Linked DNA regions of Homo sapiens: all the other regions are linked to region 1. Evidence: fine-mapped expression QTL. A gene starts in region 1. Each other region holds a variant in brackets. All regions are shown on one strand. Distances are between the middles of the regions.

The links.
Region 2: its variant is fine-mapped to the expression of ECM2 in cerebellar hemisphere (GTEx, PIP 0.99).
Region 3: its variant is fine-mapped to the expression of ECM2 in skin (TwinsUK, PIP 0.93).

Annotation. Positions count from the first base shown.
Region 1 is chr9:92,533,418-92,538,417 of GRCh38, reverse strand. ECM2 (extracellular matrix protein 2) reads left to right here and starts at 2,428. Exons shown (of 10, transcript NM_001393.4): 1 at 2,428-2,485. All of the region lies in intron 5 of CENPP (centromere protein P), which reads right to left.
Region 2 is chr9:91,567,165-91,572,519 of GRCh38, reverse strand. No RefSeq gene overlaps it. Among named protein-coding and RNA genes, the nearest start is that of MIR3910-1, 66 kb to the left of the region's middle. RefSeq lists an enhancer at 49-585. The variant T/C (reference allele first, on the strand shown) is at 3,254.
Region 3 is chr9:92,591,817-92,596,816 of GRCh38, reverse strand. The region is part of intron 5 of CENPP (centromere protein P); the gene reads right to left. Among named protein-coding and RNA genes, the nearest start is that of ECM2, 58 kb to the right of the region's middle. The variant G/AG (reference allele first, on the strand shown) is at 1,925.

The sequences.
Region 1 (5,000 bases):
CTCGCTGTAATTACTGTTAATATTTTGTTGTTTATTCCTTCCAATTTGTTCTCTAGTAAAATGCTAAATTACATACATCAAAAGAAGGTAAGATCATAATACATGTACAGTTTTGAAAATCTCTTTATTCCTGGTATAGCATGGACAACTATGCATGGTGGTATTAATGGAGTTACTTCTGTTTCTCCAAATAGCTTTATGGTAAGCCCACTTTGTTCTCTATCTATACACAACTGGGTTAACTTTTTTTCTAATCCATGGTTACAGTACTTCAGAGTACTTCCTTGAAGGCACACTTTTGTACAGAAAGAGGTGTTTCTACAATGGGTTCCTAGAGGTGAAATGGTAGGACAGACAGCATAGCTACTGTTCAGCTGTCCTCAAGGAAGAGGAGAGTTTCTGTTTTCCCTACACACTGGCCAACACAGCATATCATCAACATTTTTTTCCCCCAAAAAACAATGTATGTATTTCAAATCAGGCCATGATTTTTGATTAGCAGTGGTCTTCAAGCTTGATTGAGCATTGGCATTATTTGGGTAATTTTTCTACCCCCAAAGTTTTGTCAGCAACATCTCACTATGGTAGTGAAAAAATAACCTTCCTGTTTTAATTTACTTTTCTTGACTGTTACTGAGATTGAGAAATCTTCCTCTTCTGTTTTATTGACCACTGACATTTCCTCTTCTATGAACTGCCTGTTTAATGGTGTTTGCTCATTTGTACTCATCTTTTTCTTTTCTTTTCTTTTCTTTTTTGAGATGTAGTCTCGCTCTGTTGCCCAGGCTGGAGTGCAATGGCACAATCTTGGCTCACTGCAACCTCCGCCTCCTAGGTTCAAGTGATTCTCCTACCTCAGCCTCCTGAGTAGCTGGGACTACAGGCATGTGCTACCATACTCGGCTAATTTTTGTACTGTTAGTAGAGACGGGGTTTCACATGTTGGCCAGGCTGGTCTCAAACTCCTAACCTCAGGTGATCCACCTGTCTCTGCCTCCCAAAGTGCTGGGATTACAGGTGTGAGCCACTGCACTCAGCTAGTTTTACATTTTTAAAAATAGATATCATTTTCCTTATTTTTAGGAAGTTGAGTGGCTTATGTATTTAGTCCCTTATCTTGATTCAGTCTATCTAGGTCATTTTACAAAATCCTGATTCAGTCTAACCACGTCATTTAAACAAATATTTAGCTCCTCTTTGCCAAATGATTTGGACCCCTGAAATAACGATATAAGAATTTCAGGCCAGGTGCGGTGGCTCATGCCTGTAATCCCAGCACTTTGGAAGGCCGAGGTGGGTGGATCACATGAGGTCAAGAGTTCGAGACCAGCCTGGCCAACATGGTGAAACCCCATCTCTACTAAAAAAAAAAATACAAAAATTAATCTGGCATGGTGGCAGGCGCCTTTAAGCCCACCTACTCGGGAAGCTGAGGCAGGAGAATCCCTTGAACCTGGGAGGCGGAGGTTTCAGTGTGCTGAGATCACGACATTGCACTCTAGCCTGGGCAACAGAGCAAAAACTCCCGTCTCAAAAAAAAAAAAAAAATTTAAAAAATAGTTCTAAAATTACCTAGTCTAGGATAGGCACTGAGTTAGGACCTTCATATCTGTTATTCCTTTTATTTTCAGAAAAATTTGAAAGGTATCACCCTAGTTTTACAGAAGAGTGAACTTTGGTCAGAAACATTAAGTAACTTACTCAAGGTCCCTCATAAACAGCAGGGTTGCGCTTGGAATCCTGATCTGTCTCTAACTTCTCATTTGCAGATAAAGAAACTGAGGCCAAAGTACACAACTAATTTGCCAGCGTAACAGGTAATTAGGAGCCACACAGCTCCCTTTCACATTTTCTTTCTATTATTTCATGGTTAGAAGTTACATAATTTCCACTGATATTAATACGTAACCATTTTTTTGTTGTTGTCGTTTTGTTAGTATTGTGTGTGAGATCGAGGTGGGTGGGCAGATGAGTTAAATATTATTAATCCAATTTAAAATAGATTCCAGATATACACAGCCTTTAGCTGACGAGAATATCATCCCTATAATCTGATAAAGCTCAAGTGACATCATCCTGGCTAGTATAAACTTTAACATTTTTAATGCGAATAGTCTATGAAAACCACAGATTTCTTAATCAAGCTCATTTTTGTGTTTCCAACTCTGCCTTTTCAGCCTGCAAACAAAATGCTCTTCCCCCACACCCACTGCTGTTTTCTACTTTTCTTATGATTAAAAAAAATATTTCCCTTGGTAACCATTTTCCCTGGTTACTTTCTTGGCTGATTTTCTGCACAAAGAACTGAAAGGCATTTATCCCCAAGGGAGGCAGTTATTTTAGATTTTACTAAGAAGTTCAGCAAATACTTTTCAACATTCCCTTCTGTCCTTTCTTTGTTTTTAAAGAAAGCTCTGATTTTGTTTCATTTTCAGCTGGAGACTTAAATGACACCAAGCAAAGCCTACTTAGTTTAGATCTCCAGGTAAAAAAGTTTTAAATTTTAAGTTTCTACTTAGCATGTGGAATGGTTTTAATATTTGGGTATTTTATTTCACAACTGTTTAACTCTTGAGTAAATTAGCTCGTTACTAATAGATTTTTAAAGTTCAAAGTATGCATTATTCTGTTTGTTTTTTTCACGATGTACTTCCCAAGTATTTCAGACCTTGTATACTTAGTATTAAATTATTTTTATATGTTTAGGTGGAATTATGTGTTCAATAGAAGTATAAATTGGTTTGAAAATATTATTAATTTTTAAGTCCTAAAAGAACATAAATAATTCAAAATATTTTTCATTTTAAATCTGTTGAATGAAGTGAAAATAGATAATAGACATCTCATGACTTCATGTAGAATTTTAAAATTCTAAATTAATATTTTTAAAGTTTACTTAAGATAACTGGTAAGAAATTTTAAATGAAGAAAAATAAGTTAATCAAGGTTTATAAATAATATTTAATGTTGGGATAAACACAGTAAGTGCTAGAAGGAAAAAAATTACTTGATAAAAATGATACTATGATTGGAATCCCAGAAAATTTACCTCTAGGAGGCAAACACTCAATTACGAAGTTGTTTATGAAAGCAAATATTAAGTGCAAAGCAAAATTCTGTATATCAATGAAAATAATGAGGGCCTAAGCATTAATAGTAAAATTAGTATTGAGAGACCATTTCCTAAAATGTATTTAAACACTGTAGTGAGACTGTTTAGATACTGATTTTGTCAAAATTCAAATAGCTCTGTAAGTTTATTTCTGTGCCTATCTATTTAGATTTCTGGGTAAGTAAAAGTGAGTCAATTTGGGGGAAAAAAAGAAAGAGAGGTAGTTTCCAGAATGAGGATACTGGGAGAGAGGGGTGTGCTCAGAATGGCCACAGCTGGCACATTCACACTCCTAAGCACTCAATCAGGCAATGCCCCATAAGTGAGTGCTTTCAGGATGCCTCAGGACAGCAGGATGCCTGAGACCCTCATGAGAGTTTAACTCTAGAGCCTCGAGGTCTAGGCCCTGACTCCTCACAACAGGATGGAAGGTCTGCACATACAATTGTTAATGCAAGAAAATTTCAATGTATACATTTCATGCATTGCAGAGCACTTATGATATCCATCAGAGCACACTTGCCATGCCACTCAGCAAATTCTAGTTTCACTTTGTCTCTCAGTTCAGGTTTTCATATTGCTTTCCCCTGCTGTTGTTGTTATTCCCTTCCAACATACTACTTTGCTCTCTGAATTGACTTTTATGATTTCAGGTGCCAATCAGCTAATGGATTTGGTCCTTCTTTACATGCTGCATGTTAATTTTTCTAAAACTAAAGTAGATTGCAAAAAGTTGTTCAAAAAGTTGTTCCAGTAACCTATGAAATATAGGTCATTTCAATAACCTATAGTAATGGTTTTCAAATGACTGTGGCAATTAATGTATATATACGCTGAAGAAAGGTTTGTATGCTGGCATGAAGATACTTTAGAGACTGCCGTTTGTTGAACAAAGGTGATGTGGCAAGTCAGACTATGAACTAACTAAGTGAAACCTGACTAGAGGAAGATGATTCTGGCAGATGAAGTTATAAAAAGAAGTACTGAGATTCAAGAGGGGAAACTGAGCTGACCTTGTGCCCTCTTCCCCTCTCACCAACTCCCTTGAAATAATACAAGATATATTACAGACAAATAAATGCACGAATATACAGCTACACTAGGAAATAAAAAGGGGAGCTCCTGGTGGGACAGACACTCTGAGGAGTCCTTCACAGACAAAGAGAAGACAGAAATGAATTTAAAGAGGAAAAATGTACCCTTGAACAGTCATGGGAGAAAACAGAGTGAAGAGAGCTTGTATAGGAAAAAAAGAAGTTTTTAGTTTAAAAGATCCCAAGAAGGATACATTAAACAGCAAAAACAACCTATACCAAGGTACATTCCATTCTTTTACCAAGGTAAAACTTCCAAATATCAAAGATATGTTGAAAATTTGAAAAAAATTTCTATAGAAAGAAAAAAAATTTCTTACAAAGGGATGAGAATCAGATTCAAGTCAAATTTCTCATCGGCAACACTAAATATAAGAAATAATGGACAAATATCTATAAGGTATTAAAGAAAAATGATTAGAATGATTTTGAAACCGTAATTCTGTTTCCAATTAAACAATGACATTTTCAGATCTTTAATAAGAGCACAGAATTTTACAACTTACAACATTCTCTGAGAAAAAGAGGATATATTTCTGCAAGAAATAAAAGGAATCTGAGGGAGCTTCTCCTTCTGATAATGGCAGACAAGGCAAGTCAGATCATTAGACCTGCTGAGAATAACTAGAAAGGGTGAGAAAAACAACAGGGCCAATATTTGGGATGGGACTGAAACCCAGAGAGGTTTAGAACAGTTTTTCTTCTAGAAGCATCTGGATTCCAGAAGAGGTGGTTGAGAAGATTAATAGAGTTTTAAAACAGCCTCAGGAGGACAGAGAGAAACAAACAAACAA
Region 2 (5,355 bases), 970 kb after region 1:
CACATCTTTATGACAGCCCCAGAACCATGCCTATATCCTCGTGCATTTTTCTGCTCTCATAGAGGGAGCTTTTCTACTTTTTCTCCCATTTGAGAGTGCTCTGCTGGTGGAAAGGTTTACTTTAAGTCTCCCCGCTAAGCCTCTGTAATAAGAATACTCTATCTCACAGCTGTCAGCTCTTTTAAACAGTGCTGCCTCTGGTTCTTTGAAAAATGCCAGCCATTTATTTAATCCCGGCTTTGGCTTCAAGTCCACTGGAACAATGGCTAGCATGCCTGTGATTACGTTATCACCATTTCTCTGTGTTGGGAGAGGCTTTGTTGGTACATGTGAGTCAAAGACTTCTTGCTGTTTCCTGATTTTTCTCTTTGTTCTCTCCAGTCTTTCTACTTGGCACCGGTTAGTGTGCCTGGAGGTTTAAGACCAGGTATAATATAGTAGCAAGATGCAAAGCTGGCATATGATGTCAGAAGCAGGTTGAGGTTTTCTGTTTGTTGATAAACTCAGTAAAAGAAAAAAATGGATGTTGTCACCTGTCGTGGGTCATAGTAAACAGAAAGCCACCCCTCTCTCAGGCTGATGGTTGATTCAGGTTCATCCATTCAGACAAATAAATACCTGACAAATATTTATTAGATACTTAATAGGCACTATTAGTTGCTACTCACCTGAGATGGCCTAATGTGGGTAATTTCAATGAACAGCCATTCTTTTTATGAGCTTGTTTAATTTTTTTTTTTTTGAAACATTGTATTGTCTTGAGTGTGACAGAAACGTCCACCAATCTCTGTCTTCCCTTTTCCTTTGGCTATAGACTCACAACTTTTAGTTAGACACATGCTGTCTTGAATGAAGACCACATTTCTCAGCCTCCACTGCGTTTAGTGTGGCCATGTGGGTAGGACTTGGTCAAGGAGAAGGTAGCAGAATGTTGCAAGTAACTTCCAGGAAGAGTCTTTAAGAGGATGGAATGTCCTTCTTATTTCCCTCTCTTTCCTGCTGAATGAAATGCAGATGTAGTAGCCAGAATTTGAGCAGTCGTTTTGATCATGAGGTGGAAGCAATGTGCAGAAGATGATGGGGAAAAAAAGGAATTTCAACAGATTTTTGGGAGAGAAAAATCAGATGATACAACTGGTTTAGAAGGGGGAAGAAATTTACAATCCATGGTGCCTGTAGAGATTGAGGCTAATGGGAAGAGAGTGTTCTGCCTTGCAGAACTTGTGAAATGCTCAGGAATTTGAGGCAGTACATACAGTGGTCAGCTGGATTAATGAGGGCTGGCTGGAGACTGTGGAACAGTCAGACTCTAGAACACCTTCACCCTCCACACTCAGGCAAGTCACTCCTCCAGGTCCTCCAACCACTGCCCCTATAGATGAGATGAGTATTATTCACTGGAGAAGCTAAGCAGGAGAACTGCTGGATGTTGGGAAACCAACTGAATTGCAGGGTAGGGCAGTAATTGTGGAAATTACAGACATGTCTGTATGAGAAACAATTGAATCTATGCCCTCTCTCTCTCTCCCACTTTCTCTCCTAGGACATCTTTTGCAGATGTCACAGACTTCCATCTGAGGTGGAATAGTTTCACCCTGAAACCATGCAACTATAGGCTATCTATAAGAGACACATTTTAGATTCATAGAAACAAGTAGGTAGATAATAAAAGGATGACACAATGTACACTAGGCAGACAGTAGGCAAAGAGAGCTGGATTAGCTATACTAATATCAGATGAAACTGATTTTGAAAGAAGAAAAATCACAAGAGAAGAGAAGGCATTTCACAATTATAAGAGGGTAAACATATCAGAAAGATATAGCAATTATAAATGTAAATGCACCTAACACTGGGTCTCAAAATACATGAAGCAAGGACTGATAGAATTGAGAGCAGAAATAAAGTCGGAGATTTTAATTATAGTCTTTCAAATATTGATAGAACAGCAATTCATAAAGTCAAGAAGGGTATAGAAGACTTGAACAACACTATCAACCAACTTGACCTAAGGGACATATATGGAACACGCTACCCCAAAACAGAATGCACATTCTTTCCTGGACTTCAAGGAACATCCTACAGCAGTGATTTCCAACCCCTGGCAGGAACCAGTCCCAGTCTGTGGCCTGTTAGGAACCAGGCTGCACCGCAGGAGGTAAGCGGCGGGTGTGCATTACTGCCTGAGCTCCACCTCCTGTCAGATGAGTGGTGGCATTAGATTCTCGTGGGAGCACGAACCCTATTGTGAACGGCATATGTGAGGGATCTAGGTTGTGTGTTCCTTATGAGAACCTAATATGTGATGATCTGAGGTGGAATAGTTTCATCCTGAAACCATCCACCACCTCTATCCCACAACACCCACTCCACCCGTTTGTGGGAAAATTGTCTTCCATGAAACTGGTCCCCGGTGCCAAAAAAGTTGGGGACCGCTGTGCTACAGAATAGACCCTAGACCCTATTCTAAGCCATGAAACGAGTTGCATTAGTTTCCTGTGGCTGTTGTAACCAGTTGCCACAAATGTGGTGGCCTAAAACAACAGAAATGTATCCTCTCCCAAGTCTGGACTCCAGAATTCCAAACTTCCAGTCTGAAATCAGTATTACTGGGCTGAAATCCAGAAGTCAGCAGGGCTGCACTTCCTGCAGAGGCTCTAGAGGATGATCCCTTCCTGGCAAATTCTGGCTTCTGGAGGCTGGCAGCATTCCTTGGCTTGTGGCTGCATGACTTAAATCTTGAGATCCTTAATTTAATCACACCTACAAAGACCCTATTTCCATATAGTGTCACATTCACAGGTTTCAGGGATTAGGAAATGAATACCTTTGGGGAGATCTTTTTTTTTTAGCTTATCAAGCAAGTTTCAAAAAATGTAAAGGGCTTACAATAATGCAAATGTTCTGTGACTAAAAATTAAATTAGCAATCAACAAGAGAAATAAATATGGAAAACGGTTACACATTTGGAAACTAAACTACCAGTTTCCAAGTATTCATGGATCAAAGAAGGAATCACAAACAAAATTAAAAATATCTCAAATTGAATGAAAATGAAAGTACCACATTTCAAAATTTATAGGATGCCATCAGTGCTTAGGGGGAAATTTATAGGTTTAAACTCCTATATTTGAAAAAAGAAAGTTTTAAAAAAGAATAACAAGCTTCCTCATCAAGAAGCTAGAAAAAGGGCTCAGTGCTGCATCCTACCCTCCACCAGCTGCCAGAGTGAGAGGGAAGGGACCCTTTCCTC[T/C]CTGGCCTGAGAATCAAGGGCATGGAGCCCAGGGGGCAAGCAAAGCAGGGGTCTGAGGGCTCCCTCTGGGCACTGAGGGCTCCCTCTGGGTTCACTGCAGTCCGTGGGGCATTGGGCACCTGGTCCCTGAGGGCAGCTTGTAGGGGGTAACTCTCCAGCATCCAGGTCTCCCGCCCCTCCCTTTTTTCCCCTCTATCTTTTCCTATTTGGAATGAAGTGTGGTCAGTCCCGGAAGAGAGACAGTGGCACTAAAGCATCCCTGTCCTAAATTTAGGAGGGTGGGGGATGGAAGGAATGCCTGATCCTGGAGAGGGAAGCCCTAGGCTTCTGTGAGGGCATGGGGTGGGGAGCTGCCAGCTGCCCAAGGTCAGGAAAAAAAGTTGTGCTTAACTCCGCAGCAGGGTGCCTTGAAGGGTTGTGAGCACAGAAGGGAGAGGGCCACACGGGGCTGTGGATCCTCTTTTGACTGTGGCAGAAGAATAGGAAAGATTCTAAACTGTTTGGATGCAGAGCCTTTGACTCTGAAGGCAGGAGGTAGGATTTTATCACAATGCACATGCTACCCTCGCAACTGAGCCTGGCCTCAGGACTTGGACCTTAAGTTAGGGGTTCTATGCTTGACACATACTAGTAGTGATTGATAGGGACAGGATGCAGGGAAATTCTGGACAGAAGATGGTGAGTGCTCAGCAAGGGTCCCACCTTCAAGCCAAAAAGCCTGAAACCACTGCCCAAAGTGAGAACTTACATCCCTGTTTTCCCCATCAAATGTTGCCTTTTCCAAAACCACCCATACCCCTACCCCATCCCATCCTGTGTCTATAAAAACCCCAGGCTCAGCCAGCAGAGAGAGGAGAAGCCACTGGATATCAGAGACTATGGCTGAACATCAGAGAGAAGCAGCTTGACTTCAGAGGGACAGCTTGATAGTGTAACTTTAGGGAAGAATCTGGCCGGAGAAGGCTGGACATCAGGAGATTACCTTCCCACTCTGTCCCTTTTTCAGATCCCCTTCCTGCTGAGAGCCACTTCCATCGGCAATAAATCCCTGACATTTACCATCCTTCAATTTGTTCATGTGACCTTATTTTTCCTGGACGCTGGACAAGAGCTTGGGTGTCACGAGTGTGGATGTAAAAGGCTGTCACACTGACCCTTTGCCCTCGCTGGCAGGAGGCAGCTGCCTCAGGCGAAAAGGCAGAAGGTTGACTGAGCTGTTAACACTTAGGCTGCCCGTGGACAGCAGAGCTAAAGGAGTACTGTAACACTCCCTCTGGGGCTTCAGGGGTCATGGGTACCCCTTGCAGATGTTGAGGCAGGCCCGCATAGAGTTTTGCTCCTGCCAGAGCCCACAAGTGCTCGTCCTGGCTCCAGCACCTGCTCACCTGAAGTCCCCCTCCCACGAGGGGTGGAACGCAGCAGGTTCAAGCAAGTGGAGTTTGCCCTGTCGGTGCTGAAGTAGTGGCTAGTTCCAGTGCCCGTGCACTCCAGTTCCCACCCACAGAGAGGTCAGGGAAATATCCTGCTTCATTGTAGTGTCCAGACTAAAACAAAACATAAAAAACCAAAACCCTAGAAAAAGGAGTGAATTAAAGCAAGAGTAAGTAGAAAAAGAAAAAAGGCAATAATGAAAATCAGACCAGAAAAAAGTCAATTTTTAAAAAGACCAATACAGAAACATCAATGAAATAAAAAATTCATTCTTTGGAAAGATCAACAGAATTGATAAACCACTAGGTAGACTGATTAAGAAGAAAAGAGAGAAGACACCAATTCCAAAATTAGAAACAGAATAGGGAACATCACTCAGACTAAAGAAATTGAATGGATTAGAAAGATATTATAAACAATTGCATGCAAACAAACCCAAGAACCATAATGGAATGGACAAATTCCTAGAAAGACATAACTGAAACTGTTTCAAGAAGAAATAGAAAATCAAGTAAGGAGTTTTAATTGGTGATTAAATTGCCCCATAAATAAAAACCTGGCCGAGCACAGTGGCTCATGCCTGTAATTCCAGCACTTTGGGAGGCCAAGGTGGGAGGATCACCTAAGGTCAGGAGTTCGAGACCAGCCTGGCCAACATGGTGAAACCCCAT
Region 3 (5,000 bases), 58 kb before region 1:
TTATAGAGGAAGGTTATAAAAAAAAAGCCACAGTGGGGCCCAGAGTCCAGAACCTCTCTGGCTCTTATCATCGTTTTTTTTATTAATAGATGGCTGCTGTCATGGCGGGGACAGAAGTCGGGGTGTAGGAGAGCCTTTCTGCCTCCCGTATGGACTTCCGACTAACTCTTCTCCATCCTGTCCCTACTTTCCAATGTACTTGATGCCTCCCATTTCTGAGCAAATTGGAATTCTATAAAACACATCAGCCTTCCTCAAGGCTTTCTCTCGTTTTAATCAAATACCACACTTTCTAGCTTCCAATATTGTATTGCTGCCTTCTTCCCACCTATTTTTCTATTCTTTCTTTTTTTTTTTTTTTTTTTTTTTTTGACACAGGGTCTTACTATGTTGCCTAGGCTGGCCTTGAACTCCAGGGCTTGGCTTGGCCCTACCTATTTATCTGTGCATTTATGTCTTTTAAAAACTAACCGGTCTGGGCAACATAGTGAGACCCCATTTCTACAAAAATTTTTAAAAATTAGACATGGTGGTGTGTGCCTGTAGCCCTAGCTACTTGGAAGACTTAGGCAAGAGGATCACTTGAACCGAGGAATTCTGGGCTACAGTGAGCTAGAATCACACCACTGCATTCCAGCCTGGGCAACAGAGCAAGACTCTGTCTCAAAACAAACAACCAAACAAACAAAACACCTTTTTTACTGCCATTTTAGAAAGGTTTTGGCAGGGTGCCTGATAAATGCTGTATGTTTCAATCTGCCATTTTTTGAGGACTTTCATGTTTAACAATGTGTTTATTTTTCCCTCATACTTGATGAATAGTTTGGGTATAGAATTTAAAGTTTAAATAATATTTATACTATATTTTATAAATAAAGCCAATGATGTATGTTCAAACTTGTACTTCACAGTCTTACGTTAAATGCTTTCAGTTTTTTAAAAATGGAAGGAAATAGGCTGGGTGCGGTGGCTCATGCCTTCAATCCCAGCCCTTTGGGAGGCCGAGGTGGGCAGATTGCCTGAGGTCAGGAGTTTGAGACCAGCCTGGCCAACATGGTGAAACCCTGTCTCTACTAAAAATAAATTACCCAGGCATGGTGGTGCACGCCTGTCATCCCAGCTACTTGGGAGGCTGAGGCAGGAGAATCGCTTGAACCCAGGAGACGGAGGTTGCAGTGAGCCGAGATGGTGCCACTGCACTCCAGCCTGGGCGACAGAGCGAGACTCCATGAAAAAAAAAACAAAAAACAAAACAAAAACAAAAAACAAAAAACTGAGCAGACTTGGGAGTTCATGCCTGTCATCTCAGCACCTTGGGAGTGTAAGGCCGGATGATTGCTTGAGGTCAGGAGTTCAGGACCAGCTTGGGCAACAAGGTAAGATCCCCATCTCCACAAAAAATAAAAAATTAGCTGCGTGTGGTGTTGCATGCTTGTGGTCCCAGCTACATGGGAGGCTGAGGTGGGAGGATCAGTTGATCCCAGGTGGTTGAGACTGCAGTGAGCCATGTTTGTGCCAATGCACTCTAGCCTGGATGAGAGAGTGAGATCTTATCTCCAAAAAATCAATAAACAAATAAACCATGAAGTCAACACATGTTCTTAGAAAAACAGCAACATGGCTGGGCATGGTGGCTTATGCCTGTAATCCCAGCACTTTGGGAGGCCAAGGTGGGTGGATCACCTGAGGTCAGGAGTTCAAGACCAGCCTGGCCAACATAGTGAAACCCTGTCTCTACTAAAAATACAAAAAATTAGCTGCGCTTGGTGGCTTGCGCCTATAATCCCAGCTACTCGGGAGGCTGAGGCAGGAGAATTGCTTGAACCTGGGAGGCGGAGGTTGCAGTGAGCCAAGATCACGTCACTGCACTCCAGCCTGGGCAACAAGAGCTAAACTCCATCTCAAAAAAAAAAAAAAAAAAAAA[G/AG]AAGAGCAACCTCTCACATCCAGGACATAGAAAAATAGGGCACAAATAACTTACATAAATGAAAACTTTTTTTAATTTTTAAAAGTTTTTAAAAAATGTTTGTAGAGATGGGGTCTTGCTATGTTGTCCAGGATGGTCTCAAACTCCTGGCCTCAAGTGATCCCTCCACCCCAGCCTCCCAAAGTGCTGGGATTACAGGTGTGAGCTACCATGCCTGGCCACAAATGAAATTTTAAGTTGAAATTTTGTATTACATCAAGAGCTGATGGTTAAGGAAAAATGAAATAAAATGAATACTAGGCAGAGATTTAAAACTTGAGGGGCGATGAAAAGTCTCAGCAAAGTAGTCCAAAGGACAATGATAATTTATTCCATTTGCATAGTAGTTCTAGTGTTGAAAGATCTTTTAACACCTCATAACACCTTTATGAGGCAGAGATATAAAATTATGCCCATCTTTTAAAATAAGAAAAACAAGGCTCAGACACGCCGTGCTGTACCAGTGGCCCAGAGCCAGAAGTGGAAGCAGCAGCTGGGCCACCTGCTCACGGGGCCACCTACTCAAGGTGCCTTTCTCAAGAAAATTTTAGGTTCCCCGTGATCCCACTGATAAGAATGGAGGGAGACCAGAGGTGGGCTGACCCTAAAACTAATAAAGCTGAAGCTCCAGGAGCCTCCCTGCACAGGCTCCTCCAAGACCCTCACCTGGTTTTTTCTTAAACTACTTTTTAAAACAGTTTACATTGACAGGAAAATTGCAAAGACAATACAGAGTCCTTACATATCCCACACCCAGTTTCCCCTGTTATTCCTCTGTTATTAGCATCTTCCATTAGTGTGGGATGTTTGTTATAATTAATGAACCAAGATTGCTGCATCACTACTATAACTAAAGTCCAAATTTCATTCAGATTTCCTCAGTTTTGCCTTAATGTCCTTCTGTTCCAGGATTCCCATCCAGGATATCATATTACCTTTGAGATTCGTGAGAAAGGTAGCAAAGTGTACCTATATTCTTGGCTTCTCTACCGGGTTCCCTTTATCTACTGCTACCAGTTTAACTATTATGCTTGGTTATTTTAATAAGTGGCTCCCATTTTTTACCGAAAGAATTTAAAGAAAAAAACTTATAGTTTTTATTTGGGTCCCAAAATAACACTCGCCTTGTAGTCTGGCCACAGACCACATAAACCAGCTCTGCCAAACTCTAATCACTGTTCGCTTTCATTGTTGGCCCAGGCAGGAGGAAGGAACCAGCTTATTATGGGCTTGACTTAAAACTCAAAACAGATAACAGAAGAGTAGCAAACACCACTCTTTCATTTATTCATTTCTGTACAGATCATCCATGAATTGGCTAAACATCTTATAGCTATTCATATTTCAACATAGAATAGCTCTTGAATTAGGGGAAATGAGGGCAGAAGGAAAGAAAATCCTTTGCTGTCCTAAAACGGCTTTGCTTTCCTAGAGTAATTTCAGTAAAAATATTTCTGGTTCACCCTGTCTGTGGCCTGCACAACATAAGCTTGGGCTGACTCATTCATTCATTCAAAATGATATTATGGAGTATCTCCTGTGTGTGATGCCACGGTGGTCTGTCAGAAGTCTGTTTTTCTTTGTCCAGTGAGCCTTCTCATCTCCCTTCTTCTGGTGACAAATCCTTCTCACCTTTGCCCAGGAGCTGGCTCACCTCATCACAGCACTCTCAGCATCTTACACACAGTGTGGCTCCCCGGGGGCAGCTCTCCTGCCACCTGGGATTGAGAAGTGGATGCTTAGGGCAGATGATGCCAGGGCTGCTGGGAGGCTCACACAGTGGGAGAGAAGCCTCCAGCCCTGGGGCCAGCAGCTCTGGTTGTCTGAGCTACTCCAGTCTCTCTGCTAGCTACAGGAGCCACTAATGTTCCTTTTCGTTTAAGCCAACTTAGGTTGGGTTTCTGTCCCATCCTCTCTCACTTGTATAGAAAGAGCCTTAATAAAAAGCACAGATATGATGTTAAATGCTGGGTATATACTGATGAACAAAATCAGCACTGTGCATCATCAGGGGAATACAAACTAATACCACAATGGTATACCATGACACACACACCCAACTGGCTAAAAATGACTAACAAAACCAGTGTTGAAACAGGTGAGCAAATGGAACCCTCATACACTGCTGGTGAGAGTGTGAACTGGTACAGCTGCTTTGGAAAACTGTTTGGAAACAGGTACCAAAGCTGAGCATATGTATATGACATGATTCAGCAATTCCACCCAACAGAAATCTGCACACGTGTTCCCAATGCTCATGGTGCTACTGTTCATAGAGCCAGAACTGAGGAATACCCAGGAACAGTATGATGGATAAAGACTTTGTTGTATATCCACACAATGGAATACTATACAGCAATGAGATGAATGATCGAAAATTACAGTGTGATCAAAAATTGTAATGTGGATGAACTTCATAAAAAACAACAGGGAGCAAAAGAAGGCCAGCACAGAATACTAGGCATGGCCCGATTTCATACACATCAGGTTCTAGAGCAGGCTAGTGGATCCCTGCTGTCAGGAGCCAGCAGTGCTCGCCCTGGGCTGGAGAATGAATGGAAAGGAGTGAAGGGGCTTCATGCTCTGGGGCTGCTCATGCTGTTTCCTGATCGGAGTGGTGGTCATACAAGTTCATTTTGTGAAAAACTATCAAACTGTATATTTATCATGTATAAATATATCCATGATAAATGTATAAGTGTATACATTTATATAATGTATATATTTATACATGTATAAGTGTATACATTTATACATGTATATGTGTCTATATATGCTCTTTTCTGTATGTCTATTTTTTTTTATACTTTAAGTTTTAGGGTACATGTGCACAATGTGCAGGTTAGTTACATATGTATACATGTGCCATGTTGGTGTGCTGCACCCATGTATGTCTATATTTCAACAAAAAGTTAAAAAATAAGACAGTATTCCTGACCTCATGAAGCATAAAATTTGGTGGAAAAGACAGATAATAAATAACGAAATAAATTAAATTTATAATTTAAAAATTGTGATGAGTGCCAAGATGCCTCCT